Linked DNA regions of Homo sapiens. The protein of the gene in region 6 interacts with the protein of the main gene of each other region in a biochemical or structural test. Each region holds a gene or a part of one and is shown on either strand. Other genes may lie near its edges. The genes, in order: ARHGAP21, MAST2, ABCC4, DOCK4, ARHGEF11, PDLIM2 and LIMK2.

Evidence for each region.
Region 1: the proteins of PDLIM2 (region 6) and ARHGAP21 interact in a test that uses a peptide from one of them, tested with the Homo sapiens proteins (one large-scale study listed by IntAct).
Region 2: the proteins of PDLIM2 (region 6) and MAST2 interact in a test that uses a peptide from one of them, tested with the Homo sapiens proteins (one large-scale study listed by IntAct).
Region 3: the proteins of PDLIM2 (region 6) and ABCC4 interact in a test that uses a peptide from one of them, tested with the Homo sapiens proteins (one large-scale study listed by IntAct).
Region 4: the proteins of PDLIM2 (region 6) and DOCK4 interact in a test that uses a peptide from one of them, tested with the Homo sapiens proteins (one large-scale study listed by IntAct).
Region 5: the proteins of PDLIM2 (region 6) and ARHGEF11 interact in a test that uses a peptide from one of them, tested with the Homo sapiens proteins (one large-scale study listed by IntAct).
Region 7: the proteins of PDLIM2 (region 6) and LIMK2 interact in a test that uses a peptide from one of them, tested with the Homo sapiens proteins (one large-scale study listed by IntAct).

Annotation. Positions count from the first base shown.
Region 1 is NC_000010.11:24,717,388-24,720,887, forward strand, and holds part of ARHGAP21 (rho GTPase-activating protein 21), read right to left. Parts: intron 1-3,500. UniProt on the Homo sapiens protein: Functions as a GTPase-activating protein (GAP) for RHOA and CDC42. Downstream partner of ARF1 which may control Golgi apparatus structure and function. Also required for CTNNA1 recruitment to adherens junctions.
Region 2 is NC_000001.11:45,810,112-45,813,611, reverse strand, and holds part of MAST2 (microtubule-associated serine/threonine-protein kinase 2), read right to left. Parts: intron 1,164-3,500; exon of another isoform or gene 1,041-1,163; coding exon of another isoform or gene 1,023-1,040; intron 665-1,022; exon of another isoform or gene 612-664; coding exon of another isoform or gene 585-611; intron 1-584. UniProt on the Homo sapiens protein: Appears to link the dystrophin/utrophin network with microtubule filaments via the syntrophins. Phosphorylation of DMD or UTRN may modulate their affinities for associated proteins. Functions in a multi-protein complex in spermatid maturation.
Region 3 is NC_000013.11:95,294,952-95,298,451, forward strand, and holds part of ABCC4 (ATP-binding cassette sub-family C member 4), read right to left. Parts: intron 1-3,500. UniProt on the Homo sapiens protein: ATP-dependent transporter of the ATP-binding cassette (ABC) family that actively extrudes physiological compounds and xenobiotics from cells.
Region 4 is NC_000007.14:112,199,900-112,203,399, forward strand, and holds part of DOCK4 (dedicator of cytokinesis protein 4), read right to left. Parts: intron 1-3,500. UniProt on the Homo sapiens protein: Functions as a guanine nucleotide exchange factor (GEF) that promotes the exchange of GDP to GTP, converting inactive GDP-bound small GTPases into their active GTP-bound form. Involved in regulation of adherens junction between cells.
Region 5 is NC_000001.11:156,944,743-156,948,242, forward strand, and holds part of ARHGEF11 (rho guanine nucleotide exchange factor 11), read right to left. Parts: intron 3,487-3,500; coding exon 3,439-3,486; intron 3,215-3,438; coding exon 3,027-3,214; intron 2,709-3,026; coding exon 2,562-2,708; intron 2,274-2,561; coding exon 2,194-2,273; intron 2,046-2,193; coding exon 1,920-2,045; intron 1,421-1,919; coding exon 1,303-1,420; intron 456-1,302; coding exon 277-455; intron 1-276. UniProt on the Homo sapiens protein: May play a role in the regulation of RhoA GTPase by guanine nucleotide-binding alpha-12 (GNA12) and alpha-13 (GNA13). Acts as guanine nucleotide exchange factor (GEF) for RhoA GTPase and may act as GTPase-activating protein (GAP) for GNA12 and GNA13.
Region 6 is NC_000008.11:22,583,475-22,586,974, reverse strand, and holds part of PDLIM2 (PDZ and LIM domain protein 2), read right to left. Parts: intron 2,155-3,500; coding exon 2,085-2,154; intron 1,959-2,084; coding exon 1,813-1,958; intron 1,655-1,812; coding exon 1,576-1,654; intron 1-1,575. UniProt on the Homo sapiens protein: Probable adapter protein located at the actin cytoskeleton that promotes cell attachment. Necessary for the migratory capacity of epithelial cells. Overexpression enhances cell adhesion to collagen and fibronectin and suppresses anchorage independent growth.
Region 7 is NC_000022.11:31,260,798-31,264,297, reverse strand, and holds part of LIMK2 (LIM domain kinase 2), read right to left. Parts: intron 2,165-3,500; coding exon 2,059-2,164; intron 1,704-2,058; coding exon 1,507-1,703; intron 1-1,506. UniProt on the Homo sapiens protein: Serine/threonine-protein kinase that plays an essential role in the regulation of actin filament dynamics. Acts downstream of several Rho family GTPase signal transduction pathways.

The DNA.
Region 1 (3,500 bases), on a different chromosome or scaffold from region 6:
ACTGCAATCCAAGGGGGATATAGATAAACTTGTAACTGGTATTCCTGAAAGTGCAGGGTGTTTTGAGAGAATACACTAGGGGCAACTGAAAGAGTCTTGCGGGTCAGGGAAGGCTTTCCTGAGGAAGCAGTATTGAAGAAAAGACCAGTATGATGAGTAAAAATCAGCCATGGAGCAGAGGGAGGAGGAACAGGGGACAGTAGAGGGAAGGGTAGAAGAAAGGACCTGACAGGAGTTCAATCTAGGAAGAACAAAAAGAAGTAACAAGTGAGACAGAAGCGCGGACCAAATTACCAAAGTCCTTTCAGACTTCACAGAGGTCTGAATTTTATTTCAAAGGAAATGGGAAGACAGAAAATTGTCTTATAGGAGGTAATGTAACGATCAGCTGGAGTACAGTGGCGCGATTTTGGCTACCTGCAACCTCTGCCTTCCGGGTTCAAGGATTCTCATACCTCAGCCTCCAAACAGTTGGGACTACAGGTGTGCGCCACCACGCCCAGCTAATTTTTGTATTTTTAGTAGGGACCGGGTTTCACCATGTTGCTCAGGCTGGTGTACAACTCCTGACCTCAGGTCATCTGCCCATCAGGAGGATCATTCTGATTACAGTAGGGACAGAGCTGCGGAAGGGGACAAGGCTAAGTTATTGGGAAACTCCGTAGGGAATCTGTTTCTGTGGTTCATCAGTGAGATGCAGCTGACCTGAACTCAGGTGGGGGTAGTGGGTATTGGGAATGTGGACTCCACAAGACTTTGCATATGAGGAATGACGAGACGGAAGAGTGAGAATGCTGACCTAGTTTTTGACTTGGACCAATAAATAGATGGTAGTGCTACTCAGCGAAAGAAGGTGCACAGGAAGAGGGAGAGTCAGCGGTAGCGGTGAAATCTGATGAGTTTGCAATGCCTGGGGAATATCCCCCAAAAGTGTTCGGTAAATAGGCAACTGGCTGAAAAGGTCTAGAGATCAACCATAAAGCCTGAGATAGAGGGGTAGATACGGAGTCACCAGCACACAGGAGAGTGCAAAATAAAACCCAGGGAGTGAGAAAGAGAATACAGGAATGGAAAGGCCTTGGCTCTGGATAAAACCAACAATGGGGCAAGAAGAGGAAGAAAAACCCTACAAAAGAGGCAGATAGAGAGGGAGATAGAAAGGAGGGGAGGAGAAGAGAGAGCGCCTGAGAAGGAACTAGGGAGTCTGGGATGAAAGCAAAAGCAAACTGTCCAGCATTCCAGAAGGAAGAGTCAACACATGGATTCATACAAACTCGTACCCAGAAAAATGTCTTATTGTATTGTTTACAGTATTTCAAAATCAACCAACAAGTGTATTTCATCAGCCATAATACATTTCAGTCATAGAATAATCTTAGCCTAGGTCAAGAAGCAAAACAAAAATAAGTTCATTTGCATTAGTAAAAAGTTTAATAATAAAGTGACAAAAATTCTATTACTGGACAAGAGTATGGACTACAGATAAAAAATGAAATAAATGTTAGAAATGGAAAAAAAATCATGTGGTTAAGAAAGCTGAGGGAAAGTTTTCTCTTCTTTGGCTTAAAAAAAAAGTTAAACCTTGAAAGATGAAGCTATATGGATATGAAAAGGGGTGATAATATCATAGAGGATTCAACAGAAGAATCTATATAAAGTGATTTTGTGAGCAAAGTTACTCAAGGATTGGTGTCAGAAGACTTCACGGACTACACACACACACACACACACACACACACACACCCCAAAAATCACTTAAGAGGTTCAGAGTGAGTGATTTCAAGTTTTAAAAATACACCTTGAGATGTATAAAAGTATATAAATTCGTGTGAGTACCATCTGGACCATCCTTACTGTATAATGCCAAGACATATTCTACTGAACTGTCCTAATTTCTTATTTGAAGAGGGCTGTTTATTTGTTTTGAGGCTTCCAATATATCCTGGGGGTGGGGAGGCCTAAATGTATATCATATATCAACACAATAAAATTGCAATGCTTAAGATGAACAAGAAATCTCTGATTGTTTTTCAACAAAGCACAAGGCCTTATTCAGAGAAGGTGGAGTTGGCTAATTAGATAAAGCATGAAACAGAGACTCCTGTTAATTCATTACATTGATTTCTTCTGTCCTATAAAGTTAGGTTTTCTTGGCTGATTAACAGCATTACTATTAAGACACACATGCTCATCTCTTTGTTAGTTAAAAACACAATAATAAATGTAGTATCCAAACACATTATTGATTTTTAAAATTTTTTAAAGAGTGATAGTACCACTGTGGAATGTAGTGCTTCTAATAAAATTGACGACAAAAATTAAATGCAATGTTCAAAAACCTAAATATCAGCCCAAAGTATTTCATTAGCAACTAACTCCCTATTACTAAAAAATATTCACAAGATTTAATGTGTATCAGAAGCATCAATCACAGATTAAAACACGTCACAACTAAATACAGGCAATAATTACACAAGTTCTCTTCACTCCCAACCCTGAGGTTTTAAAATGTTTTCTGACAACATATATCCCCTTTATTTCCACTTCCACATAGAATCTAGGCAAAATACCTATTCTTTAGAAAGTCAAATAATATTGTAGTTTAATACCAAACCTAAATACTGTATATATATTTCACATAAGCAAAACACAGGTGATATTGTGTTTTCTTCATTGCTAAACTTAAAAACAAGATAGCCATGCTGCCAGCAGTAAGGTCCAAATGAAAACAAATTTCACAGCCGTTAAAAAATACATAACTGTCATTGTTAATAAAAGCCAAGTGTGCAACAAACTGGAAATACTGCTTGCTAGCCAAGGACAAGATGTGTCTAAATTCTTGGTTTCAGGACATCTCTTAAATGACCAAAAAAAAAAAAAAAAATCAAATAACATTAGTTCTTGCAAACAGAATGCAAATACAATGCTAATTAAAGTATTCACAAGACAATGACAAATAAGGCTTCAGGACCACAATACATATTATTATGTAACTGCAATACACATTAAGCAATCACCAGGTTGCAGGTAGGCCTTCCAAAAGGAGTTATTATGGTTTACCGTGATCAGAGGATTGTGGTGTTCCACTTAATCATGCTTTTGCCTGCAAGCAGGTGTTTACAGATGTCAAAAAGTAAAACACTGATTCTAAATGTAAACCTACAGTTCTGCCTAATAAATTGTACAGTAATAGCACACTGTACCTCACAACGTTTTCTGCATAAACTTTCTAATTCGACATGAAGTAAGCTGCATGAAGCAAGTTTCTCCGCTTGCTTTATGAACCAAAATTTAACTTCTGATTCATTTTTATTAAAATGCCAAAACTCACACACTTAGAGCCAGCCCTTGTTTCAAGGACTATGAAGTTAAAATTTAACATCCGGTGCAAAAGAAAGTGAGACAGTGAATGAGGGTTCATTTGGGTATGTTATTGTCTAAAGTAATCCTCAACCCTTCAATGAAAACATAGGCATCTCAAAAGTAAAATTTAAAGGATA
Region 2 (3,500 bases), on a different chromosome or scaffold from region 6:
CAGAAGAATTGTTTGAATCCGGAAGGCAGAGGTTGCAGTGAGCCAAGATCGTGCCACTGCACTCCAGACTGGGGGACAAGAGCAAAACTTCGTCTCAAAAAAAAAAAAAAAAAAATTGGCCAGGCGTGGTGGCGGCTGCCTGTAATCCTAGTTACTTGGGAGGCTGAGGCAGGAGAATTGCTTGAACCCAGGAGGCAGAGGTTCCAGTGAGCTGAGATCGCACCACTGCACTCCAGCCTGAGCAACAGAGCAAGACTCGGTCTCAAAAAAAAAATGATAATAATAATAATAATCTTATGGGACCCCCATCTTGTATGTCATCCATCATTGACTAAAACATAATTATGCGGAACATGACTGTATGCAGAGAAAAAGAAAATGAATAGTTCCATCTATACTGAACATGTATAGATATTTTTTTCTTGTCACTATTCCCTAAGTAATAGAGTGTAACAGTTATTTACATAGCATTTACATTGTATTATATATTATAAATAATCTGGAGATGATTTAAAGTACATGGGAGGATATACATAGGTTACATGCAAATACTATGCCATTTTATAGATAGAACTTGAGCATACCAGAGTTTGGTATCTGCAGGGGGTCATGTACTCAATCCCCGAGAGATATTGAGGGACAACTGTAGCAGCAAACAGACCTGAGGGGCTGAATGTGGAATACAGGTAAGGTTAAGAAAAAAATCAAACACAACCTCCAGTTTTGTTCTGGTAAATGAGTAGTGCCATCTATTGACATGAGGCAGACTGGGGAAGAAGCAGACTAGAAAGTGAAAATCAAGACTTCATTTTTGGACATGTTAAGTTTGAGAGGTCTCTGAGCTATCCAAATGAAAATGTTACACGGACTATTAAAAATAGGAGTAGGGCCAGGCACAGTGGCCGATGCTTGTAATCCCAGCACTTTGGGAGGCCGAGGTGGACGGATCACCTGAGGTCGAGAGTTTGAGACAGCCTGACCAACATGGAGAAACCTAGTCTCTACTAAAAATACAAAATTACCCAGGCGTGGTGGCACATGCCTGTAATCCCAGCTACTGGGAGGCTGAGGCAGGAGAATCACTTGAACCTGGGAGGCGGAGGTTGCAGTGAGCCAAGATGGTACCACTGTACTCCAGCCCGGGCAACAGTGCGAGACTCCGTCTAAAAAAAAAAAAAAAAAAAAAGGCTTACAGATTGATCTTTAGGCCAAGAGACATCCAGAACAATGATGGGAAAACTCTGTAATCACATGTGTCCTACCCTCATCAGGGAACATTTGCCAACCTGCTTCAAGCCACCATAGACTCTCTGCTCCCAGTACTTTTGATGAAACTAAATATTTCAAAGTTAACACCTTTTTAGGAGCTAGCCCTTACCCATACCCTGGATAAGAGGGAAAGGAGGTCAAATAAACTTTTGCACTGAAAACTCGGAAGATTTCTCAAATGCTCATGTCTCAAACAGCATGTCCTGCATCCTATCCTCCACACAGTTGCCAGAGTAATCCAACTAAAACACAAATAAGAATATACTGCTCCTGTGCCGCGCGCGGTGGCTCACACCTGTAATTCCAGCATTTTGGGAGGCCAAGGCGGGCAGATCACCTGAGGTCAGGAGGTCCAGACCAGCCTGGCCAACATGGTGAAACCCCATCTTTACTAAAAATACAAAAATTAGGCCAGGCGCAGTGGCTCACGCCTGTAATCCTAGCACTTTGGGAGGCCGAGACAGGCGGATCACGAGGTCAGGAGATCAAGACCATCCTGGCTAACACAGTGAAACCCCGTCTCTACTAAAAATACAAAAAAATTAGCTGGGCGTGGTGGCGGGCGCCTGTAGTCCCAGCTATTCGGGAGGCTGAGGCAGGAGAACGGCGGGAACCCGGGAGGCAGAGCTTGCAGTGAGCCAAGATCAGGCCACTGCACTCCAGCCTGGGTGACAAAGTGAGACTCTGTGTCAAAAAAAAAAAAAAGCCGGGTGCGGTGGCTCACGCCTATAATCCCAGCACTTTGGGAGGCCAAGGAGGGCAGATCACGAGGTCAGGAGATCGAGACCATCCTGACTAACATAGTGAAACCCCGTCTCTACTAAAAATACAAAAAAATTAGCCGAGCGTGGTGGTGGGCGCCTGTAGTCCCAGCTACTCCAGAGGCTGAGGCAAGAGAATGGCGCGAACCCGGGAGGCGGAGCTTGCAGTGAGCCGAGATCGCGCCACTGCACTCGAGTCTGGGCGACAGAGCGTGACTCCGTCTCAAAAAAAAAAAAAAAAAATACAAAAATACAAAAATTAGCTGGGCGTGGTGGCATCCCAGGTACTCGAGAGGCTGAGGCAGGAGAATTGCTTGAACCCCACAGGGGGAGGCTGCAGTGAGCCGAGATCGTGCCATCGCACTCCAGCCTGGGAGACAAGAGCGAGACTTCGTCTCAAAAAAAAAAAAAAAAAGAAATATACTGCTCTCGGCTAGGCACGGTGGCCCACGCCTGTAATCCCAACACTTTGAGAGGCCGAGCCAGGTGGATCACTTGAGGTCGGGAGTTTGAGACCAGCCTGACCAACATGGAAAAACTCCGTCTCTACTAAAATACAAAATTAGCCAGGCATGGTGGCCAATGCCTGTAATCCCAGCTACTTGGGAGGCTGAGGCAGGAGAATAGCTTGAACCTGGGAGGTGGAAGTTGCGGTGAGCTGAGATCGTGCCACTGCACTCCAGCCTGGGCCACAGAGCAAGACTGCCTCAAAAAAAAAAAAAAAGAATATACTGCTCCCCTACTTATTATCCTTTTTTTTTTTTTTTTTTTGAGATGGAGTCTCGCTCTGTCGCCCAGGATGGAGTACCGTGGCGCGATCTTGGCTCACCGCAACCTCCACCTCCCGGGTTCAAGCAATTCTCCTGCCTCAGCCTCCCAAGTAGCTGGGATTACAGGCGCCCACCAAGACGCCTGGCTATTTTTGTATTTTTAGTAGAGATGGGGTTTCATCATGTTGGCCAGGCTGGTCTCAAACTCCTAACCTTAGGTGATCCACCCACCTTGGTCTCCCAAAGTGCTGGGATTACAGGCGTGAGCCACCACACCCAGCCAATTATCCTTTTATATCACACTAAAGACCCTCAACAATCAAGGCTTCTTTAATCTCTAACCTAGCATTTACACCTTCAACGTAAAGCTCTGGGTCTGGCAATAACAAACCGATTATAGTTCCCTATATATATTACGCAGCTTCCCTTCTGTGTGCTTTCTGCCCTATGCTTTTCCCAATGTACTAACCCTGTAATGCAGAGGAAAGAGGTTCTGATTTCCATTAAAATAATTTTTTAAAATTTCTGTCACACTGAGGGTATTTTAGGAACTAAAGTTGAACTCATCTTCTGCCATCCTCAAAAATATTCTATTTCCTTTGTCTACTCCTATCATATAACCATTATTACTCAAATTACCAAAATTCAAAATATTTGAATCATTCTCCATTCATTCATTCAATAAATAATGACTGAGCAC
Region 3 (3,500 bases), on a different chromosome or scaffold from region 6:
CTCAAAAATTAAAAAATTAAAAACAAAAAATAAAATAAAAATAAGGCACTCAAATGTTTGCTAAATGAATAATCTAAACCGCAGAGGATCAAGGCAGTAACCTTGGCCTCCCAGACACCGATCAAGTAGAATTGGACACCAAAGACTGAGAAAGACCTGAGAAACGTGGCTCCCAAATCTCAGCATCTGAATCAACCAGGAAATAATGCTTTAAAAAATGCAGATTTCAGGATGCTCAACCCCAAGAGACTGTGATTCTGCAGACACAGAAATTTACTATTTGGCCGGCCACAGTGACTCACACCTGCAATGTCAGCACTTTGGGAGGCCAAGGCGGGAGAATCACTTGAAGCCAAGAGTTTAAGACCAACATGGGCAACACAGCGAGACCTGGTCTCTACCAAAAATGTATTAATAAAAATTACTGGCCAGGCACAGTGGCTCGCCCCCGTAATCCCAGCACTTTGGGAGGCCGAGGTGGGTAGATCACAAGGTCAGAAGATCAAGACCATCCTGGTCAACATGATGAAATCCCATCTCTACTGAAAATACAAAAATTAGCTGGATGCAGTGGCGTGCGCTTGTAGTCCCAGCTACTCAGGAGGCTGAGACAGGAGAATCACTTGAACCCTGGAGGCAGAGATTGTAGTGACCCAAGATCACGCCACCGCACTCCAGACTGGGCAACAGAGCAAGACTCCGTCCCCCGCCCCTCAAAAAATTAGCTAGGTGTCCAGGTGCGGTGGCTCATGCTTGTAATCCCAGCACTTTGGGAGGCCAAGGAGGGCGGATCACAAGGTCAGGAGTTCAAGACCAGCCTGGCCAACATACTGAAACCCCATTTCTACTAAAAACACACAAAAAAATTAGTTGGGCATAGTGGCAGGCACCTGTAGTCCCAGCTACTTGGGAGGCTGAGGCAGGAGAATCACTTGAACCCAGGAGGCAGAGGTTGCAGTGAGCTGAGATCACACCACTGCACTCCAGCCTGGGTGACAGTGAGACTCCGTCAAAAAAAAAAAAAAAAAACACTTTAGCTAGGTGTGGTGGCGTGCACCTGTAGCTCAGCTACTTGGGAGGCTGAGCTGGAAGGATCACTTAAGCCTAGGAATTTGAGGCTACAATGAGCCATGATTGCATCACTGCACTCCCACCTGGGCAACAGAGCAAGACCCTGTCTCAAAACACACACACACACACACACACACACACACACACACACACACACACACAAAAACACAAAATTAAATGGCCAGGAATAGTGGCTCATTCCTGTAATCCCAACGCTTGGGAAAACCAAGGCAGGAGGACTGCTTGAGCCCAGGATTTTGAGACCAGCCTGGGCAACATAGTGAGACCTCATCTCTACAAGAAAAATATTTTTTTTATTATAGAAAAAGAAAATATAAAATTAAACATTTGATGCATTGACTGAGGGCCTCACACACCCTTCCTCTCTAAGCCATCCCCTGCCCTCAGCCACTTGTGTTTGCTTCTATAGTCATGTCATCAGCTCTCTAGGGCAGGTCTCCAGAGAGTCTGTCTGGTCACCAGTGGCAGTTTCCACAGCAGCACAGGCTTTGCAAGATGACACTTCACCCACTGAGATATGGCCAGCAACAGGGGAGCAAGGATTTAACCACTTTCTGTGGGCCAGATGCATCTGGAGATCCCTCTCAATGCCCATATTTAGGGAAAAGTCCTTCGTTGTTAGCCTCCACCCTGCTGCTGACCCCAGATCACCTCTGGATCAGGTGTGGGCAGAGGAATGCAAAGTGCCTGCCGGGCACCAGGGGGCAGCAGGACAATTCCTAGGAGAGTCTCAGGGATTGACCCATCTTGTGCCCAGCTGGCCACAGTTCATAGGCTATGCCACTTATTTCCACTAACGGGAAAGAGGAGGAATTATTCAATAAATGATAATGGGGAAAACGAGCTGTTTGGGGAAAAAATGGGGACTATCTCATATCAAATACCAAAAGAAATTCTAGCTGCCTTTATTGTTAGAAATGAAACAATAGCTAAAAGAAAATGGAAGGCCAGGCACAGTGGCTCACACCTGTAATCCCAGCACTTTGGGAGGCCGATGCAGGTGTATCACCTGAGGTCAGGAGTTCGAGACCAGCCTGGCCAACATGGTGAAACCCTGTCTCTACTAAAAACATGAAAATTAGCCAGGTATGGTGGTGGGCACTTGTAATCCCAGCTACTTGGGAGTCTGAAGCAGGAGAATCACTTGAACCCTGGAGGCGGAGGTTGCAGTGAGCCGAGATCACACCACGGCCAGCCTGGCAACAGAGCTAAAACTCTGTCTCATAAAAAAAAAAAAGAAAGAAAAAAGAAAGAAATAGGTGAAAATACTACCTTTAAAAATCCACAATTGCCAACAGCCATAATGCATGACTCCTTTTAGACTCCAAGTCCAAATTATGCTATAAATACACCAAAATCCCGGGAAAATACTTTGAATAAAAGTCAGTAAGCCAGTTATTGGCATCATTTAGGTAGGCAGCTGCCAGTTCACAAGTTCAGAAAGCAGATGATATTTGAGAAGAAAAGCAAACACTCAACAAGAAGGTGAAAAAGCAGTTTTTCCCTACAAGGTGGGCCCTGTCTCCAGGCAGCCACTTCCTGGATGGGCTCATTTCAGCTTTCCACTGGCAGTGGGAAGGGTACACAAATACTGACCTAAAAGCAGGAGGCTAAGGCACAAAATATAACTCAAGAATTTACTACAGACCCAGTGTGGTGGTTCATGCCTGTAATCCCAGCACTTTGGGAGGCCGAGGCAGGCAGATCGCTGGAGCTCAAACTCCTGAGCTGTGGATTACAGTGTCCTTGGGGCACTGTTAGGTTAATCTGTAGCTATGTGGCAATATGAAGTACTTTCGAGTGATAAGTAAATAGCTCAAGGGGGTGGGAACTACGAGGTGACTGCTGTGTCATTTTAATGTCTCTCTGGGCCTGATAATTTAAAAGGACTCCGCATTCCTCAGATGATGATTATTATTATTTTCTCACTATGAGGCCTCAGACTTTAAAATCCCTCAAACTGGCCCAGGCACAGTGGCTCATGCCTGTAATCCCAGCATTTTTGGAGGCCAAGGCGGGCAGATCACCTGAGGTCAGGAGTTCAAGACCAGCCTGGCCAACATGGTGCAACCCCATCTCTACCAAAAATACAAAAATTAGCTGGGTGTGAGGGTGCACGCCTATAGTCCCAGCTACTTGAGAGACTGGGGCAGGAGAATCACTTGAACCCAGGAGGCAGAGGTTGCAGTGAGCAGAGATTGCACCACTGCACTCCAGCCTGGGTGACAGAGCTGAGCAACAGAGAAAGACTCCGTCTCAAAAAAAAGAAATAAAGAAATTTTAACAATTAAAAATAAAGAAAAGCATAATACTGTAATAATACTCCAATGAAAGGAGTAGCTGGAAGCAGTAAGCGCCTCAAATCAGGATCACCTGGAGCACTTGAAACCTCACCACCCCCACCCACA
Region 4 (3,500 bases), on a different chromosome or scaffold from region 6:
TGCATGTGATGGCTTTAAATATTTGTTCCATCTTTAATAAGAAATACTACAGAAGACAGACTTTGACTTAGACTGAAGGAAAAAAGGATAATTAAATTCTTTGTTAAAATAAACCCACATATCTGACTATCAAAGACAATAACCACCACCACCATCAACTCCTTGCCAATGTCATGAAAGGAACTTCACAGAAACCCAGTAAGATGTGAGTTGCAGTCCTTCTGGTATCACAAATGTAGCATTTAAAGCAGTGTTTTTCAAACTGTGGGTCAGGACCCATTAACAAGTCAATTTAGTGACAAGTATTTTTTTTAACAAAAAAGAATAGAACATTACATAGAGTATAAGCAAGTGCTGTTTTAATTATATGTGTGTGGGGTGGTACTGGGGGATATTTATATATATACTAGGTCAGGAAATTAACTATATTTCTTATGGGTAATAGTCAAACAAGATTAAAAGCTACTAATCTAGAGTAAGTCACTTAAACTCTATGAAACTGTTTTCTCATCTCTTAAATAGAAATTACCATTCAACTTCAAAGGGTAGACTCAGATAAAATAATTTCACTTTTTAAGTAAAACATTGTATTACTGTGTTACGGTTACAGCCTTTTAGAAGGGTTTCATTAGAGTTTAATGTTCCTCTGATGTATATATTCACAGCATGAAGTCACTGTGATAGAAACATAGACATATTGTATCAAACATAACTCAGAAAATGTTGTCTCCTTTTGGAAAAGAATAGAGCTAGAGATAGGAAATCCTAAATTTCTTGAAATTTGTATAATCTCCCTCGTACTAGCTACCATAACAGCCTCTAAAATAAAAAAAAAAAAACAAAAAAAAACAAGATCATAGAGGAAGAGCAGCATCTCTATGTGGCTTCAGGGGCCTTGTGAAGAACTGTCACTTAGGGGAATGACCAAAAGAGGGGAACATTTTTATAGACCATTCCCATAGGAGGCCAGATCAAGAACATAAGCTGCTATCCCACTGTCTGTATGGCCCTTCGGTGGTATTTTACTGGGAGGTATAAATCATTTCTCTTCTATTCCCACTTAAAGTTTAGAATCCTGTGTCAGGCTCTAAATGTCACAAACAATTCCAAGCAGAACATTATTATTTAGCTTTACATGCTATGTAGATACATCATAGGACCACTAATAGAAAACACTTTAAGAAACTGTTAGCTAAGAAACTACAAAAAACTAAGAGTAAAGGAAACACATCCTTATTACGCTCTATCACACACATACGCTATGATTAAAGCATCTTTCTAAGGAGAAAGACACCTAACTATCCTGTATGAATACGAGAAGGTGCATCTTCTTCCACCAACATAGAAGGGGCTTTAAAAAGGAACATGATTCCTACCCAGATGAGTTCAAAAACTCCTTCAAGAAAAATAGAATACAGGAATTTATGTGATGACTGAGTGATACTCGCACCACACAATTTATTTTTTAAATGACACTGTGACTTCAGATCAGCTTGTTCTGAGTTTTGTTTCTTATAAGGTTCATGGATTTTCTGCACCGATCAATCCAGCCCGTGTTCTCCTGTCAAGCTTAACTAAGCTCACACATGTAAAACATCTGGCTAGGTTTGAGGGGTGCAGCCTTCAGCTCAGGAAGATGCCATGACTCATCTGTGAATCTGTGCATAAAAGCCTGTTGGACAAATGAACGCAAAAACAATCTGCAAAGGTCTTAGCTTTCTCCATGAATAATTCCCACCACTTTAAGGCGGGGTGGGGAGGGGGGAGGAATGGGGGGGTGTGCTAACAGATGAGGACATGCAGGAGGTAGAGGTAATCTGAGGAAATTGGTGAGTATGCGATCAAGAATGCTTTAGTCACCATTCTGTGCGATAGATCACTAAAGCATGTTCCCCCTGTCTCACCAAAACTTTGTACACTTTGATCATCATCTCCACTTTCCCCAACCACCCTCTTCCCCCAGACTCTGGCAACCATCACTTTAATCTCTATATTTATGAAGTAAACTTCTTTAGATTGCACATGTAAGCAAGATCATGCAGTACTTATCTTTCTGTGCCAGACTTACACTTACTTCATTTACTATAATACCCTCCACATTACTGAAAATGACAGGATTTTCCCCTTTTTCAAGACTATATAATATTCCATTGTGTATAGATACTACATTCTCTTTACCCATTCATCTGATGATGGACACTTAGGTTGCTTTCATATCTCAGACATTTTGAGAACTGCTTCAATGAACATGGGATAGCAGATATTTCTTCAGCATACTGATTTCAATTCCTGTGAATATATACCAAGCAGTGGAATTGTTGGATCATATGGTAATTCTATTTTTAGTTCATTGAAGGTCCTCCATGCTGTTTTACATAACAGCTGTATTAATTTACATTCCCACTAACATGTGCACAGCGTTCCCTTTTCTCTGCACTCTCACCAATACTTGTTACCTTTCATTGTTTTTATACAGCCATTCTAACAGATGGGAGGTGATATCCACAGAATGGAGATACAATAAATAACAATGCATTGTATACTTCAAAAGTGCTAGAATGGATTTTAAATGTTTTTTACACCACAAAAATGGTAATTATATGAGGTGTAATTTGTTAATAGCCTGATTAATCACTCCAACTGTAAACGTACATCAAAATATCACACTGTACACCATAAATATATACAGCTGGGTGAGAAGGTGCATGTCAGTAATCCCAGTTACTCAGGAGGCTGAGGTGGGAGTATTGCTTGAGGCGATCAACCAGGAGCTTGAGGCTACAGGCTATAGTGCACTATGATGGCGCCTATGAATAGCCACTGCACTCCAGCCTGGGCAACAGAGCAAAACCCTGTCTCTAAATTAAAAAAAAAAAAATGAAAACTTAAAAAATATATTATTATTATTTGTCAAGGAAAATACATTTAAAAAACAAACAAAATGCTTCAGTCACTGCCCATGGAGCTCCTACTAGCCAGAGAGAATCAAACAAATTGAGAAAGAGAGGAACCAGCACCTCAGTTCTGGCAGCTTGCCAGGTAGCGTTTGCTTACCTCTGATCTTACTTAAAAACCAAGTGAGATATGTCACAACAAAAGTGTCTCTGTCATAGCAGTCTCAACACAATGAAGATGTTTTTCTAACCAAAGAACACAGTTAGTTGGAAGAGCTCTACAAAATTAGTACCAGGGAAGGCTTTAGTTAACACTTGCCCCAGACGCTGGGACCCAGAAAGGCTAAGTGATTTACCTAAGGTTACACAGCTGGCAGCAGTGTCTAGCCCAGAATCAAGAGCTAACTAGAATCTCCTAAGGTGAAATTGCCTATCACTGTGCCTCTTAACATGATTTCTAAAAGACAAGGTTCCCTGTTCCTCAGAACTATAACTTCATCACTATACCTTTTCCTAAAATCAGAACACTTATGACTGACTTTTCGTTGTTTTAATGAATTTAATCATTCATTAAATGGGACGGTGCCTATACATCAGTTACGAAAA
Region 5 (3,500 bases), on a different chromosome or scaffold from region 6:
TCCCAGAAGATCTCCACCTTACCTCCAGTTCTACCCCATCCCCTGCTCTCTCAGGCTGAGTTCCAACATCTAGTCTTTCTTAGGTGGGGCGGCCTGCCTTGTCCATCTAGGGACAGGGTGACAATAGCAGGGTGTGTGTCTTCTGGGGCTCCATTGTGCCACCCTATCTGGTCTCTGTCTCCTACCTCTAAGACTCTCCAAGCCCTGACCAGTGTTCTGCTCCTAAGGGTACCCACAAAGTGTGAGGGGTTGACTGCTGCAGCCTCTGCCTCCTACCTTGAACTCTGCTGCCAGGGGGTTGCTGGCCCTCTCCAGGGCGGTGGCATCCAGGCGTTTCTGGTAGCCCTCTAAACGGTGGCGGTTCTCTGTTTGTTTTACCGCTTCATTCACATACTTGAGAATCTCCCGGCACTGGTCCCGGGCCCGGCACAGCTTCTCATGCTCAGAGGTGCCACCTACCAAAATGGACAGAAGAGATGGTTGGGGCTCCTGCCTGAGAAGTCCAACATGGCGCCAGCTGTTATCTGCCTATTCATCCATGGCAGCTGGCTTGCTTCAAACCAGCAGGCGTGGGTGGAGGGGAGCCACCCTTGCCTCACATGAGGACCCCAAGTGGTAAGGGTAACTTTTACTGAGCATCTTCAGGTCTCAGACAGATCACTGCTTTGAAGACGCTGATAGCTCCTGGGAATCCCTGCCTCTACTACAACCAGCTCTACAGATGCAAGGGACAGAGACTGTGGTAAATGGCCACAATTATGCCTCTAGAAAGCCTGTTCAAATCAGATTGGGGTTCCTAACACCTCTCTGTCCTGACTCCAATGTCTGAAATTTGGGGGTAGTGAAAGATGCCCAGGATCCCAGGGAGAGTGATAACCTGAGGCTAGACCCTCTTGTTCAGTCTGGTCCCCTGCCCCTCTAGTGTAACCACATAGGCTGTGTCTTTTGTGCACTGCAGGGGGCATGAATGGGGATAAAATCCAGCCCCATGCAACCAGAGGGACCCAGGTGCCCTTGAGTGCCAGCCTGTGTTGGGCACCGGATGCTTTCCTTGGATTTGCACAAAGGCCCACACAGGTGGCCTTCGATGGTGGCCCCTACTCCTCCCACTATTAAACACCTTATATTTTCCAAAGGACATTTACAATCATTTTCTTCTCTGAAACACCCCACAACAGAAAAAGGACGAAGACACCAAAGACCACAAGGCACAGTGACTTGCTAAGGTCACAAAGCAGTGTCAGAATGAGGGTCTGGCACGAGGCCCACTGCCTGTGATGCCAGCCCCTCCCCAGGTGCTACCCTCTGTGTGCTTGATGATGCTCTCCAGCAGCAGCGGGTACTTGGTGAGCCGCTGCATCTCAGAGATGATGAGGTCTCTCAGCTGCAGCCGCCGACACTGAGGGTGGCTCTCAGCCTCCTAGACAGCAGGAGACACAGAAGGGAGGAGATGTCAGCGTGGCTGGGAGCTGGCTTATGGGCTCAGGGCCAAGATGGGTGTGAACATGACAAACAGGTCCTAACGCCAGATGGATCACTCAGAAATGGCAGTGGAAGCTTCTTCCTTAAAGATGTAGAGAAGGGTGTGTGGTGGCAGGGAGACACCAATCCAAAGGGATATGGTCAAAACAGAAGGGCAGGCATATTGCTGCCATTCTATAGACAAGGAAACTGAGATCCATCTCAGGACACACAGGTGCTGGTGGGTGAGCCAGGCCTCTGACTGCTAATCCAGGATTCTTTCCAACAAACAGAAGTCTCTTTGTCTAGAGTGAGTCAGTGCTTTTGAGGAGCGTGTGTCGAAGGGTAGAGGGAGTTGCTGTAGACAGGGATGATGTGGCCAGAAGGAGAGAAGTTCAGGAGATCCTTGGTGACCTTGATGGAGATGAAGGAAGGCCAAGGCATGGCCAAGGACGCACCTGCATGAAGAGCTGGAATCGACTCTCCTTGCGTTGCTTGGTCTTGATTAGCTCTAGGGCTATTGACTGATAGGAACAGAACTGTGCAGCCACTTGCTGGAGTTCCTCTCGGGCAGGGCCATCAAACTGAAGAGGCAGAATGGACACGGGGCCAGGCATCAAACCCCTGCCTGGGACCAGACCCCTGCCTTTGCCAAATTCTCTGGCCTTGGGTAATGAGACCCTGCCTCCCCCAATCTCCTCCTTGCCAAGAGGGAGAAGTTTGGAGCCATACCCGGGCCAGCATGAGGTCACTGATCTCTTTGATGATGGGGCCTTCCTCCCGGAGCTTCTTCATGGCTTCACACCAGGAATCTGGGGCAGGAAGAGAACAAATAGAAATGCCTGGGGTTGAGCTCAACTGCCAGAACCTTTCTGACAGAGAGAAGTGAATCTCTGACAGCAGTGCCATGGGAAGGGTCTGGAAACCATTGTACTTTCGGGGTGAACTCCAGTGCTGGTTTCAGGCTGTCCACAGATCTTTTTCTCACCAGGGATTGGTGGGAGGTTACCTACTCAGGGAGGTCCTGGCAGTGGGGCCAAAGTGGAACAGGAAGCTGAAGGGCAGCAGAAGAGGAGTCTGGAGGGGCACAGGCTCCTTACTGTGAATCTCTATGAGTTCAGGCAGGTTCGGGAAGAGCCGGGCCAGCTCCTCCCGGGGCATCAGGTTCTCCTTCTTCATTCGCTGGTAGAAGATCAGGTCCAGGACCCGGAGTGTGCGCAGGTGGGAAGCTTCAGTCACAAACAGCTCTGAGCGGTGGTTGTGACAAGGAGGGTAGAAAGCCAGGGAGAAAACGGATCAGCAAGTATCTAGAGTCCCTGACCTGGTTCCCACACCACTCTATTTTTGGGGGAACTGAAGTGCCAGTTTCAGATCATACAGCAACTTTTCTCTTACTCCAAGGGCCAGAACTGAGGGGAACCTTATAGCAACAGGCAATGTGGACCTGCTCCAGCACACAGGGGCCCCCCACCCTATTTACCTCTTTCCCACCCTTGTGTCTTAGGCATTCTGGACCTATTCCCACACGTGTGAGCGGAGCTGGGGGCAGTGGAGCACGTTCTCACCATTGATGACCTCTTGCCGGTCAATCTCCCGCTGGGTTAGCCCAGCCACCACATCCTTGCCCACTGTATGCTGCCAATTTTGGGCATCTGGCTCTGGCTCCAGGTCAGACAGCTGGCCCAGATCATCCTCTAGGAGGTGGGGAAGGAGGGTATCTGTGCAGAACCCCAAACTGGGGGACTCAATGCTCCTGGGGGAAAACAGGCAGCTCAGCTTCATTTAGGAGGAAGAACTCACACAGAGGGTTTGGCCCTCCCTCTCCTGCCCGACCTGCTTGCCCCATGCACATGGGAAACCAGTGGGCCCAGAAGAGGAGACAGCCACCCAACCAGCCCCTTGCAGGTGAGAGGAGCAGCTGGGTGTGGATGGGACACAGAGACACCAAACAGAGGCACCACCGTGCCCATCACTTACCTGCGGCCCATTTTGGGAGTGAATGGAGGGGTTGGGTTCTCAAGAGACCTGTGGAGGGAATG
Region 6 (3,500 bases):
CAAGTCGTCAGGCAGAGGTGGGACCGACCCAAGTGAGTCTCCCCACACCCAGCTCTGGGCTCGTGACCCACAAGCCCCATGCCCAATTCAGCGGGTGTAGGCTGGAGCCTGGGAAGTTGCATTTCCAACAAGTTCTCAGGTGTTGCCGCTGGTTTGGGAGCCATGCCTCTGTACCTCCCACACCCTTCATTTTCCTGGACTGGGGGCAACACGATGGGGAAGCTCGGGAAGGCTTGCCCTTGAGCACGTGGGTCCTGCTGAGACCACAGCCCACCAGAGGTGTCGCGGAACAGAGCCAGGACTGACACTGACCAGCCCTCTTGAAACAAGCTCATTCCTGGCTCATCTCAGAACAAAGGTTCCCCCTAAAAAATCCCCCAGCCCCAATACATCAGCCGTCGCCCGGACCAGTGTTTCTCCATCTCCCAGCATGTCGGGCCTCCTGCTCATCCTTCCCTAAACCCTCTCACCACCACCTCTAACGTCCAGCAATACTCCTCACACAGCCTTCCTTCCCCTCCCCTCCCAGAACGCCTCCTGCTTTTGTAATTAATACCACACTGCTTAGTGCCTAATTGCTCCAAAATTGTTTTGCAAGTTTGCCTTATCTCTACAACTGCATCTTCAATTCCTTAACAAGGGGACCCATGGAATATATCTCTATGGCCACAGTGCCAGGCTGGCCTCTGGGTGGGCACGCAGCGGGTCACTAGGCAGCCGCTGTTCGGAAGGCCCCCAGAAAGATCCTGCTCCTTCCTCCTCCAGAGCCTCTGGGTTCTAGTGCCCTCCCTGGCCACCCCCAAAGGCTCTGCTTTCTGGAATGCAGAATCAACCCAAAGGTAGGGCTCAGCAGCTGGGCCATATCCCCATCACCCCAAAGGCTGGACGTGCCCCCCACGCCGTCCCCAGCAGCTGCGGCCCAGGGCTGTTGGCTGCCTCACTCCCTCACCATCCCCCACCGTTGAAGAGGAGAAATACCACCCAGGAAGGGGGTTAGGCTGTCACCAGGGGCCACTGGGACCTGGCTGAAAGAGAGTCCAGGGGAGCTGGCGGGGGTAGGGGGAGGAGGAGACAGAATAAGCCAAGAGCGCTCAAGGCAGAACCGCAGTCCCACTGGGGCATCTCTGGGCTGAGTCAGAGGAGGAAGGGAGGGTGTGGGTGGGAGTCAGGCAGGCCCGGGTCTTGGAATGGGGAGGAATGTGTTCGAGAGATGCAGCCAGAGACGAAAGGGAATCATCCCAACAACAGCAGCGAAACTATTTCAGCCACAGCCCAAGAGAAACATACTGGGCAGGGAGGAAGTCAGCAGGATGGGAGGGGAGGGGGATGAGGGGAGGGGTGCAGGAGATGGACGGGCTACTGGGCACTGCTGGGCAGGTCTTGGGCACAGCACAGGTGGCCCACGACCAGAAGCATGGCCTCCCTGGCTCAGGAGCAGAGCATGCCTGTGGCCAGGAGAAGGAGGCCATGGCTGCCCAGGTGGGCCTGGCCGCCTGCAGTCCCGGGGCACTGGCAACCCACAGGAACGGGAGGTGCTTCTGTTCCTCCAGCCTGTCCTCCCCCAGGGAGCCTCACCTGTCGGCTTCCAGGGCGGCCTGAGTAGGACAGGCGGTCAGCAGCGGGGAGGCCCGGGGAACATGCCAGACTCTGGAAGCTGAAAGTGGGAAAGGGACAGTGTGTGCCAGGGCCACCCCCAGCCTGCCCAGGGAGGATGCTGCCCCGGGCTCCCAAGCAGAGCTCCTGAGACTCAGAGGAGCCAGCCTGGAGCTGGCAGCGCAGGCGACCAGGGTACCCACTCACAGGCACACTCACCTGCGGCTGATGGCTGCCTCTCCAGTGAGGGAGCTGCTAGAGGGTGGTGGTGAGAAGGGGCTGCCGGCCCTCGGGCTGAGGGAGGTTGGGCTGGAGTAGGAGGACCTTAAGGAGGACTGACTCTCAGTGTATGTCCTCACGGAGCCCTGTGGAGAGAGTGACTGTGTCAGGAAAGGCAGGGCTGCCCCGCCAAGGCCGCCCTGCCCTCGGGCCTCACTTTCATGCACCAGTGATCAGGGTGCTGAGGCTGTCAGGGGAGGGCACCAGCTTACCTGGAAGCGAGTCGCCAGCACTTCCAAGGAGCTGTCCCCATTGGTCTGCCCTGGAGACGTAGCCTGAGACCTGAGAAGGCAACAGAGGGAGGGAATGTCACAGGGGCCCTGCACCCTGCAACCCCCAAAAGAGGCCAAAACTGTTCCCAGATCTAGTTCTCAACACCAGTAAAAGCTACAGAAAATTTGGACATCCGGTTGTCAACTTTTAACTTTGTCAAACTCAAGACAAACAACTATCATCAATGACAACCATGGTTCCTTAAAAGAAAGGACAGTTGGCCAGGCACATTGACCCACGCCTATCATCCCAACGCTTTGGGAAGCCAAGGCAGGAGGATCACTTGAGCCCAAGAGTTCAAGACCAGCCTGGGCAACATAGGAAGACCTCATGACTACTAAAATTTTTTTTTAAGTAGCTGCACATGGTGGTGCATGCCGGTAGTCCCAGCTACTTGGGAGGTTGAGGTGGGAGGATCGCTTGAGCCCAGGAGATGGAGGTTGTAGTGAGCCGTGATTGTGCCACTGCCTTCCAGCCTGGGCAACACAGCGAGATTCTGTCTCAAAAAAACACCAAGGCCGGGCACGGTGGCTCACGCCTGTAATCCCAGCACTTTGGGAGGCCAAGGAGGGTGAATCTCTTGAAGTTAGGAGTTCCAGACCAGCCTGGTCATCAACAAGGTGAAACCCCATCTCTAATTAAAAAAAAAAAAAAAAAAATTTAGCCAAGCCATAGTGACGCATGCCTGTAACACCAGCTACTTGGGAGGCTGAGGCAGGAGAATTGCTTGACCCAGGGAGGCAGAGGTTACAGTGAGCCAAAATTGTACCACTGCACTCCAGGCTGGGCGACAGAGTGAGACTCCATCTCAAACGACAGTAACAACAGCAAAACCCACCCCAAAAAAAGAAAGGATAGTTTGGTTCTAAAAAGTAGAACGTACATAACTTCATCAGAAAGTTCAAACATTCAGTTTTATTAGAGAGTCCTCACATTATCCTGCCCTTTTTTTTTTTTTTTTTTTTTTTTTTTTTTCTATTTTGCCTGGACTTTGTCACTGATATCACTCAGCCTCGGGTTTGTAGATTGATTTGGGGGAAGATTACTGATTTTTTTGTTTTTTGAGATGGAGTCTCGCTCTGTCACCCAGGCTGGAGCGCAGTGGTGCAATCTCGGCTCACTGCAACCTCCACCTCCTGGGTTCAAGCAATTCTCCCTGCCTCAGCCCCCCAGGTAGCTGGGACTACAGGTGCCCACTAGCATGCCCGGCTAATTTTTGTATTTTCAGTAGAGACGGGGTTTCGCCGTATTGGCCAGGCTGGTCTTGAACTCCTGACCTCAGGTGATCCGCCCGACTCGGCCTCCCAAAATGCTGAAATTACAGGTGTGAGCCACTGCGCCCGGCCTGATTACTG
Region 7 (3,500 bases), on a different chromosome or scaffold from region 6:
CTGCTGACCATGCCCACCAGAGCACACAAGGCTAGCTGCCCCCCTCCTCTGCATGGTGGCTCTACAGATACCTGGCCACTCCCAAATCTTCCCTTTTCCAGGCCATGGATTTCTAGCTCTTCCCTGCCCTCTGTTGCCCTGCCTCCCACTAATTTCATCATACTGACCAAGGCCAAGAGGCAATGGGAGTGAGGGCAGCACTTTAATGAGAGGGCACTGTTTCCAACACATGCCAGCTGAGAGGGCTCTAACTTACTCAGTTTGTTTGGTGAGGAGAGTGGATAAAAAAAAACAAACTTTTTTTTTTGGAGACAAGGTCTCACTCTGTTGCCCAAGCTGTAGTACAGTGGTGTGATCAAGGCTCACTGCAGTCTTGAACTCCTGGGCTCAGGCAATCCTCCTCCTCAGCCTCTTGAGTAGCTGGGATTACAGGCATGTGCCACCATGCCCAGTTAAGTTTTTTATTCTTTGTAGAGACAGGAATGTGGCCCAGGCTGCTCCTGAACTCCTGGCCTCAAGCAATCCTCCGGCCTTGGCCTCCCAAAGTGCTGGGATTACAGGTGTGAGCCACAGTGCCCTGCCCATCTAATTAAAAACAATTATTATTATTATTTTTTTTTTGTAGAGACAGTGTCTCACTATGTTGCTCAGGCTGGTCTCAAACTCCTGTGTTCAAGCCATCCTCCGACCTAGGCCTCCCAGAGTGTTGGGATTACAGGCATGAGCCACGGTGCCTGGCCAAGAACCTGATTCTTAGTGATACTAAGAATGTGTCACGTTTACTGAACACTGTCCCTATGGCAGCACTATACAACTTTATGTCCTTTTCCACATTTAATCCTTACATAATTGGTGAGACAGCCACCTTTATCTTACCATCTTATGTCACAGATGCAGAAACAGGCTCAGAGAGATGAAGTGATTTGTGAAGGGAGGAGCTCAGCCTGAAGCCCCAGTAGGGTATCAGTATTTCTGCCTGGGAGCCAGTGCTCTTGACTTCTTTTCTGTAAGTCTCCCTACTTGGGGCTTCCACTCAAGGCAACTTCTCCTTCCCCATGGACCTGGCAGAATCTGGGGTTTGGGGGTTGTTGGTCCCTCAAGTCTAAAAAAAACGTTCATTCATCTTTTGCTTTATTGTTTTCAAAGTCTTTCTACACAATTTATTCAATCCTATCTGTGCCCCTACTCCAGGCTCTGAGCTCCATGCTTTCTCCATAGGCCATGTTGCCCTTCAGGGTTTAGCATCACTGCCTCCTGTCCAGCTTAGGAGTTCAGTGGACAGAGACTGACTCTCAGGTTTCTAAGGAAACCTGGCAGACAGCTGGGTCCGCACAGGCTCTGGCTGTAAACTGTGATCCCCACAGGGGCAGCTGGGTCAGCACAATCCTCATAGTCTGTCCCTGGCCAGCTGGTTCCTTTCCTAACTCTGCAGGCTTCTGAAAGCCAGCTCAGCTTCATCCGAGAGACAGACATAGGACAGAACAGAGCCAGGGTGGGAGGTGGCACCTTAGGGAACGTCTCCTCAGTGTCCCCTCCAGATTCTCCTTGGTGTCCAGGGTGCTGAGGGCGTGGGGGTGTCCGGCATTCTGCATGTGAGGAGCGAGCCGGGCCTCCAGCCGCAGCTGGTCCAGGCGTTGGGAGACGGGGTCATGTTCAATCAACAGCTGAAGTGTCTGGCTCGTCTGGCTAATTGCATCCTCCACCTGTGGCCAAGAGCAGTATAAAGCTCCCACAGGCTGCCCCATCCCAGGCCACCCATGGCCAACCCAGATGACTCAGGCACAGTGTGGCCAGTGCTCAACTTGTCTAATGGTGGCCTTTAGCTGCCAGTGGCCTCACAGTGCCCTCTGCCTGGCATCCTGTCAGCTCTCCCGTCCATCAACCATCCCTGCTACCCTGGGAACCTGTTACGCTGAAATAGGTCACCAGTGGTCACAGGCTCAATGCTAAGACAAAGAGATGGGCTGGGGGTAGGAAAAGGTAAAGGCTACAGCCTGATTTCTCAGAGGATCTGTTCCATGTCCCACCCTCACAAGACAGATTAGACACACACTCTACCTCCTCCACTCGAAGTGTGCGGACGGGGGTCCCATTGATCTCCAGGATGCGGTCCCCAGGGTGGATGGCGTTTCGATTGTTGGGACTGATGTGCATCCGGTTGACCCTGGGCCAGACAAGAGTTGAGGCAGGGTAAAGATGTCCTAAAAACCTGCTTGACCAATTCTGCTTGTGCAGGGAAGGTTTACCAGGTCCCAGGCCACCAGTGGCCCCTAAGGGGCCCAGGATACCCACACAGAAAGGCAACACCTTTTCCAGGATGCCCCATCTCAGTGAAGGGAATTGCCACTCACCCTGTGGCCTAAGCCAGAAACTTGAACATCATCTTCCCAATCTGGAGTTCCCTCATCTCTCCTACTCCCATCTCTAAGAACTCTGCCTTCTTTCCATCATTGTAGTTATTCACATCTCTTACCTGGATCACGGTAATAGCTTCTATTTTTTTTTTAAACTTTGTTTTTAATTTTTATTTGAGATGGCATCTTACTCTGTCATCCAGGCTGGAGTGCAGTGGCATGATCTGGGCTCACTGCAACCTCCACCTCCCAGGCTCAAGCAATTCTCATGCCTCAGCCTCCTGAGTAACTGGGATTACAGGCGCGCACCACCATACCCAGCTAATTTTTTTGTACTTTTTGTAGAGATGGGGTTTTGCCATGTTGGCCAGGCTAATCCCAAACTCTTTTTTTTTTTTGAGATGGAGTCTCGCTCTGTCGCTCAGGCTGGAGTGCAGTGGCGTGATCTCTGCTCACAGCAAGCTCCGCCTCCTAGGTTCATGCCATTCTCCTGCCTCAGCCTCCCGAGTAGCTGGGACTACAGGCGTCCGCCACCATGCCCGGCTAATTTTTGTACTTTTAGTAGAGACGGGGTTTCATTGTGTTAGCCAGGATGGTCTTGATCTCCTGACCTTGTGATCCGCCCACCTCGGCCTCCCAAAGTGCTGGGATTACAGGCGTGAGCCACTGCGCCTGGCCTAATCCCAAACTCTTGACCTCAAGCAATCTGCCCACCTTGGCCTCCCAAAGTGCTGGCATTACAGGCGTGAGCCACTATGTCTACGTCTGGACTTTTCTTTTAATTAAGAAAAACAGAGACGGGGTCTTGCTATGTTGGCCAGGTTGGTCTTCAACTCCTGGCCTCAAGCAATCCTCCCACCTCAGCCTCCCAAAGTGCTGAGATTACAGGCATGAACCACCATGCCCAGCCTACAATAGCTTCCTAACTAGTCTCTATACCTTTAGGCTTTCCCCTCTCCAATCCAACCTCCATACCAGTGATCCTTCTAAAATGTTAACTTGGTCACAACACCTTGCTGCTTAAACTCTCAATGGATCTGCTGGATTTTCATAATCCAGGCCCTCTATACTTAACAGCCCCTTTTCTGGCCACACTCAACCTACATCAGACATGATTAAGACTCCTACTTTTGGAGAAATGCTTCT